Homo sapiens: one gene and its partner. The protein of the gene in region 1 interacts with the protein of each later gene in a pairwise test. Each region holds a gene or a part of one and is shown on either strand. Other genes may lie near its edges.

What was found.
Region 2: the proteins of LANCL2 (region 1) and TDRKH interact in binary tests that used the Homo sapiens proteins (3 or more experiments, as listed by UniProt).

What each region holds. Positions count from the first base shown.
Region 1 is NC_000007.14:55,363,385-55,367,299, forward strand, and holds the start of LANCL2 (lanC-like protein 2), read left to right. Parts: upstream 1-1,952; 5' UTR 1,953-2,641; coding exon 2,642-2,845; intron 2,846-2,970; exon of another isoform or gene 2,971-3,355; intron 3,356-3,915. UniProt on the Homo sapiens protein: Necessary for abscisic acid (ABA) binding on the cell membrane and activation of the ABA signaling pathway in granulocytes.
Region 2 is NC_000001.11:151,776,598-151,780,512, reverse strand, and holds part of TDRKH (tudor and KH domain-containing protein), read left to right. Parts: intron 1-372; coding exon 373-562; intron 563-1,270; coding exon 1,271-1,410; intron 1,411-1,506; coding exon 1,507-1,828; intron 1,829-3,913; coding exon 3,914-3,915. UniProt on the Homo sapiens protein: Participates in the primary piRNA biogenesis pathway and is required during spermatogenesis to repress transposable elements and prevent their mobilization, which is essential for the germline integrity.

The DNA of each region.
Region 1 (3,915 bases):
GCTCAGCGGCTTTTGGGGCAGCCACGTTAGGTGCTGGGGAATGGAAGAGGATGACACTGCCTATTTTGACTCAGATCTTCAAGGATGAGCACACCCTCCCCTGGTAGCAACTTCTGCACCCGCCGGCCACCCCGTAGGGCCCTGCCCCGCACCGCACCCGGTGGCCTCCCCGGAGGGCCGTGACCCAAGCACCGCACCCGGCGGCTTCCCCAGGTGCTGCTCCGCCCAGTGCCCCCCCAGATCTCAACGTGGTGCCACAATGCCGCCCTCTCGCACATCGTGTCCTTGGACTATGTCTTCCTTTGAAAGGTCAGTTGCCAGGGGCCCTCACGACTCCTTGGGTGTGCTTTGGGCCGGCATGTATGTCCTCTTGCCCTTCTCTTACACAGAAGAGTGGGGAGGGTGTCCTAAGAATTTGGCTTGTCCTAAGGAAAATAAAGTTGTAATTTCAAGGCACTGACCAAGGTCTCTGTACTACTCAAGAGCTCAAGAGTGGCCACGGGGGAAGATAGCCCTGGGTGTAAAAGGGCCGCAGAAGGGAATCCCCTGTGCTCTGCATTAAAAAACCCCCAGGGGACAGGAGGCTGAAGAAAGGGAACCTACCACTTCTCCATAAAATAGTGTCAGTGAGCTGTCCAGGAGGGCAGGGGATCTGCCGATAAGAGAGCATTTAGGAAAATATGCCGACTCCTTAAATTGGGTTTCGATTTTTCAGCTTTTGAAAATATTGGTTTTCTTTAGGACAGGTTTCTGTACTTGCCAACAGTTGCCAGTTATCCACCAGCAGACTGCAGGAAGAAGAGACAATCTTCACCTCCCTCCTGGGTAGGGAGAGCTGAGAATTCACTAGGCTTAGCCTAACAAAGCCCGCAGTGGACGTTTCTGCTGTACCTGTCCAAGGCGTGATAGTTCCCCAGACTTTGGGGAATATCACCGTGGGTTATTTTGTCTAGTTAAGTCCCTGTGGTGGGATAAGGATGGCTCCTAGAGCATGTCGGCATCAGTAGTTCCTGGAGTGGATTTTCCTACACCGTCTAGGTATGAAAATTTGGTGGGAGAAAAGACCCCAGGAAAGGGGAAAGCAGGAAAGTGGAGCTAAGGGATGCTGCTATAACACTCATCCTGTTGTATCTGTTCTGTTTCCCTGAACTTTGAAGATAGTTATGCTGAGTACCCCCTTTAAAATGATTTTCTTCTACACTGTACCTTCCCATGGTCATGTTCTTGGTGGGGTGTGTTTCACATGTCCAGCCCTGTGGGGTTGGGGGGACACTAGAAGAGGTAGTGGGAAGCCAGACTTTCCCACATCATTCCACCGAGGCCACGGAGGCAGGAGGAACCGAGCCTTCCCTGTGCTCGGCACTGTGTTTTTCTTCATCATGTCACTTTTTACATTAACGTGTATTTTTGCTTGCTTCCAGAAAAGCACCTACATCAGCTATGCTGTAATCCTTGCTTTTCTCACCCAATAACTGGGAATCCCCAGAGAGCCAAAACTATCTTTTTAATCTCTTATTTCTTCATCACCTAGTACCATTTGGTGCTCAATCAACGTTTACTGAGCGGAAGAAAACGGAAATAAGACATTTTCCTCAAGGAGCAGAAATCATTACACGTATTTGGTCCAAACAAATAAAAATAAAGAGAACCAATGAAGACTGAAGTAAACCACATCACGATTACATAAATGTAAAGATCTGGTTGCTTGTGTCCTTTTTATAATACATACTATGATCTTTGCCAATTAACACTGGAGGACTCTTTCTGGTCGATAAAATGTTTGGATAATTAAGTATGCTTTCATTTTATGTCCCGGTATCAAAGATGTCCATTTATTCAAAACAAAGGGAGTGAACATAAAACATAAAAAGAAAAAAAAAAAGGCCTGTGGCTCCTCCTCCCAGACACCCCCCTCCAACAGTGATGAATAGGAGGGACTGTCTCCCTCCCCCATCCCTCGGAGACTAGCCTTGCAGTGTTTTAGACTGTTTTGAAATTCTGTTCTTTAGAAGAGATTTTTTTTTTCTTCTTAATATCAAACAAAGAACTGCTGCTATTCCTTTGGGCTGGCGCAGCAGGGGCCGGTGAAATGCAGGCTGACGACGGCGCGCCAGGGGCTGAGCTCGCCCCGGTCGGCGACGCGCACACACCTTGAGTGACAGCGACCTCTTCTCTACAGGTTTTCCCCGCGGGAGCGTGGCCCTAGCGGGCGTTCGGTTTTCTTTGGAAATCGCGGAGGGGGCTGGCCGGGCGCAGCGATCCCCACCCCGGGACTCCAGCCCCGGCCGTGCGCGTCGCCGCGGACGGGCTCTGCGGGCCACGGGGAAGGTGCGAGGAGGCGCGAGCAGGCTGTGAGCCGCTGGGCGCTCCCGCGAGCCCGCTCCTCTCCGTCGGGAGCAGGGCAAAGGCGCCAGGAACAGGGCAGAGGCACAGCGCCCACCGCCTCTGCGGCCGCCTGATGTGCGAGCAGCCCGCGACGAGGCAGTGCACGCTCAGACGCCCCGCTCCTCCCGCCAGCGCGCGGCCTCGCTCCTCCTAGAGGACGCTCTCTGCGCGGGCCCTCGGAGGAGGCGGCGGCGGGGCGAGCTGCAGCGCCGGGACAGGAGGTTTGTCCCCGCCCGCGCGCCGTACCGCGGCGGAGATGGGCGAGACCATGTCAAAGAGGCTGAAGCTCCACCTGGGAGGGGAGGCAGAAATGGAGGAACGGGCGTTCGTCAACCCCTTCCCGGACTACGAGGCCGCCGCCGGGGCGCTGCTCGCCTCCGGAGCGGCCGAAGAGACAGGCTGTGTTCGTCCCCCGGCGACCACGGATGAGCCCGGCCTCCCTTTTCATCAGGACGGGAAGGTGAGTCGGCGGCCTGGCCGCAGAGGCGCCGGAGGGGGAGCGCGGCGGTGGTAGCGTCCACCTTCCGCCAGGCGTGACGTCACAGGCGCGCGCCGGGCTTGGGAGGGCGCGGGATGATAGCGCCTAGCACCTGTCTCCGGGCCTTCCCGATGAGCCGCGCTTAGGGTCCGTGGGCTTCAGCTGCATGAACCACGTTCCAGCAGTTCGGCCCTCCTGGCCCCAACGCGCCTTTGAAATACGCGGACAGTGCGCTTTCCTTCTTGGCCCGAGCGGCGCTTCGCAATGCGGGCTTGTGCACTCGTGAGGCCCGCGGACACCTCCCGCCCCTGCGCGGCGGAGCGCTCCGCCGGCTACCTGCTCCTCAGAAGTGGCCTGGAGGCTGGATTTCCTTGGCCATATCTGGTCCCTGGGCTCTCGCCGACAAAGAAGCATTGTCCGTACTGTCTGTGTGCCCAGAAATGGGAAGCGGGTGTAAGGGGAGGCCAAACTTGACTTTCTTAGTGTCGCGAGGTGGGTCAGAGCGTTACATTGACATAAAACAGATTAACAACAGAAAAACATACATCTCTTGAATATGTTTTACGTGAAAAAGACACAAAGAAATGGCAAAACCCAAATACTTTTGTGCTAGGCAGAACCAAGAGCGGCAGCTGTGGGAGAGTAAAGTGTGCGGGGAGGCTAATGGAAGATGGAACTGCTTGAACCACGTCTAGGTAGAAATCTCCGCCTTGCTCGGCTCTGGTGCCGAGTGTTTCTTTGTTCCTGGTGTAGGGAGGCCATGTTTTACAGGAGTTTTCTCTTGTTTCATGAAGAAAAGGGGGCAGTTTAGAGCACTCTTCTGTTTTTCAAGTGCTTTTAGCTTAAAATAATCCTTATGCCAGAGACATATTTTTGGGATGGCATACCCTGTCACCCTTCACGGGCTATCTGAACAGAATCTAACGTGGGAGGCAAAAAGTGGGAATAAAACAGAAGATTGAATATCAGCACAACTGTTTTCATGCTTGGTAAAACCGTACCTTTACCAGGTTTTCTTTTTCCACTGAGGTACGTGTTCCAATGGCCACTTC
Region 2 (3,915 bases), on another chromosome or scaffold:
TGAATGGCTACCTGGTTCTTCTTACCATCTTCCATTGTTCAGCTGGAATGTCAAGAAAACAAAATATTTGATTCTCTAATCCAAATAAAATTAGTAAGGGGAAAGGATTCTAAACACAAAGATAAATGGGTTTGAATTTACTGCTATTTGGGGTTACATTTGTTACTAATCTCCTTCCATAAAGTGAGGACTGGTTGTATAGATAGTAACTGAGGTTGTATATAAAGTAATTGAGGACTGGTTGTATAGATAGTATTAGCTAATTCCTTTGGCTAATTCTATCTACCTCCAGGGTTTGTTTTAGAGTGTCTGTAGCTGGGCTCAAATGGGAGCTCTTCCAGAATGTACTGCCAAATGTCCTTTTCTTTGCAGCTGCGGAAACAGACAGGTGCTCGGATTGATGTGGACACAGAGGATGTAGGCGATGAGCGAGTGCTGCTTATCAGTGGTTTTCCTGTTCAGGTGTGCAAGGCCAAAGCAGCAATCCATCAGATCCTGACAGAGAATACCCCAGTGTCTGAGCAGCTTTCAGTTCCCCAGAGATCTGTGGGCAGAATCATAGGTACCACTGGATGGCTTCCTCTATTGTTTCCTTTATTCTTTACCTTTGCCCCTCTTTCACACCTTCCCAGGGTTTTTTCTGGCCTAGTTCCCCTTCACCATGTGAGGGGAAAAAAAGGGACATTGAGACCAGAGGTTTACTGTTTGTAGAACTGGTGGTAAAACCAAACCTGTTTCCTCAAGAAGTTGTATGATCTGAACCTTACAAATTGATTCTTTAAGGGTTCTAGTAGATGTATTATATTTACCTTATAATTGATTTTTAAAGGGAAGCTTGGGATGCTCATGTTATCTCAAGTCTTTCAAGACAGTGCTCTAGAGGGTACCTTTTATGCTTTCCCCTAGAGCATTGCTTAGTGCTGCTGTTAGAGGCAGAGAAATGTCCTGTCCTTGATCCGGTGTTCTGACACACTATGTAGCATATCTTCTTGTGACCTGATATGGCCATGCTGAGTGGTCAAAATGAAAATGACATGAAGTTAGCCAAAGTGTAGAGTTTAAATAAAATGGAAAAAGGAAAGAATATGGTATTCTCCTTTTCACAGTAATGATTTCAGTAGCTCCTGATTTCCATTCAACATCTTGTATTTTGTTCACTTTAGAAATGAGAACTGATTCTCTTCTCCTAGTATATACAAAACAGTGATTTCTCCAGTAGCTAAGGTTGGCCAGGAGGGAAGGGCAGGTTTTTATATATTGTTTAATGTAGGGAGAGGCGGCGAGACAATTCGTTCTATCTGTAAGGCATCTGGAGCCAAAATTACCTGTGACAAAGAATCAGAAGGGACATTACTACTATCAAGACTTATAAAAATCTCAGGAACACAGAAGGAAGTGGCAGCAGCCAAGGCAAGTAGCTAATAGACTTGAATTATACCTGAGCATGAGAAGATCCTTTTACTCTATCCCAGGTCAGAATATCATCCTTTCTCTTGTTTTCCACAGCATTTGATACTGGAGAAAGTTTCAGAAGATGAAGAACTTCGGAAGAGAATTGCTCATTCTGCAGAAACCAGGGTCCCACGCAAACAGCCAATCAGTGTGAGAAGAGAAGACATGACAGAGCCAGGTGGAGCTGGAGAGCCAGCATTATGGAAAAACACCAGTTCTAGCATGGAGCCGACTGCACCCCTGGTGACTCCTCCACCCAAAGGAGGAGGCGACATGGCTGTGGTAGTGTCAAAGGAAGGTTCCTGGGAGAAACCTAGTGATGACAGCTTTCAGAAGTCTGAAGCCCAGGCCATCCCAGAGATGCCCATGTTTGAAAGTATGTAACAAAGAGGGAGCCCATTAATCATTGAAGATAGAAATACTGGCTTAGATATTGGAGAGATTAGAAGGAATGCCTTCTCAGTCTGAGCAGCCAGTATAATATGGCTGGGGTCAGGACAGAAGATTCGGTAAGATATTTTGAAGATGGGATGGAGGTAGAATCCACACCAACAGTTGCTGGACAGTTTGAGGGTGCAGATGTTGATCACTGAAAATGATTTATGCAGGTATAAGATTCTGCTCCTAATTGTAGGAGAGAACTTGGTGCCTCTTCCACTCTGAAGCAAAGTTGATGAAAGTCTTCTTCCTTTTCCAAAACCCAACCTGAACTACTTCTTTCTTGAGACAGACTATATTGAGACAAGTTGTTACCAGCAAAAGATAGATACATGACCTTTATTAACAAAAATGAATTAACCAAGAGGATATTTGTAGTTTATTATTTACCCCAAACTTTCTGTGTCTGGGTACCCTCTGAGTAGGCCTATAATTCCTGCCTTCACTGTATGCATTTTATGTAAGCTAGCAGACCTATGTGGTGAGAATGCACAGGAGCTTGGAGGTATAAATAGACAGGGTGGGAAAGAGAGAGCTCCTTTCGCCATGTTTTACCAGCCCGCTCTGTTATAACCTCTTAGGTTATATTCTTTAATTTCCAACCTTTTAGGTTAGTTTCTGTAACAGAACAAATGAGTCTGGGATAAAGTCCTCAAAGTACTTCAAATGGTAATTGTTTTGTTTTTGTAACGGCTTAACAAATAACCTAGGTTTTCTGTTTAAAAAAAAAAGAAATACTGGCTTAGGGCATGGTGGCGCAACCTGTGGTTCCAACTACTTGGGAGGCTGAAATGGGAGAATCACATGAGCCCAGGAAGTCGAGGCTACAGTGAGCTGGGATTGCACCGTTGCACTCCAGCCTGGGTGACAGTGAGATCCTGTCTCAAAAAAAAAAAAAAAAAATTAACTATTTTTTTAAAAAGAAATACTGGCTTAGATTACCCAAAATAGGAAGCAATAAAAAGTCTTTTTTCATGAATACACTTATGTCTATCATCACAGATATTCCTTACTGGTAATAATATTTTACTTGAATTAATACTAAACATAAATATTTTTCTAAATATAAAACAGCTGATGGAAATGGCAAAATAATGCTGACACAGGAAACAAATGAGTAATACATCAAATAATTGGATTTACATGATATTGTTCCTCTAGACATACTTTTTTTTTTGAGACAGAGTCTTCCTCTGTCTCCCAGGCTGGAGTGCAATGGTGCATTCTCGGCTCACTGCAACCTCCGCCTCCCAGGTTCGAGTGATTCTCATGCCTCAGCCTCCCGAGTAGATGAGACCACAGGTGCACACCACCACATCCGACTGATTTTTGTATTTTTTAGTAGAGATGGGGTTTCACCATGTTGGACAGGCTGGACTCGAACTCCTGGCCTCAAATGATCCACCCACCTTGGCCTCCCAAAGTGCTGGGATTACAGGCATGAGCCACCATGCCCAGCCTAGACATACTTTATCAACAAGTAAAATTCTCAGCCAGATTTTATATTGCCTTTTTCATTACTGTTTTTAAAAATCATCACTATTGAAAAGGCTGTGAGCTTTCTCTTCTGTACATAGGTTTTGGCGTGGGCAAAGAGGACCTGGATTCCCAAGAAGCTCACAGACTTGTCCAGGGTCATGTAAAGAGTCAGTGGTAGAATGGGATCTGGAACAGGTCCATGTCCGTCACTGTCCATGTAAAGATTGCTGTCCATATACCTTTTTACTGATCCATGCTGTAGCTAGCATATGGAGGTTTACCTTCTGTATAATTGGTGACCGATTTGACTATGTAGCACATGACAAAGAATGTAAGCTGTTATTACTCAGTTACATGGAAAGGTACAAAGGATAGCTTAGTATCTTTCTTTAGGATATTCTTGTTTGATTCATCCAGTTGCCTCTCCTGCCATTTTAAAATGGTAACAGCCATTGGTATTTGTACCTCTCACTACCCTGGTTAGTCTCTTCATTCCAACCAGAGATGGGTCTGATGTGGCCACCATCCTTATCTCTGTGTTCAGTC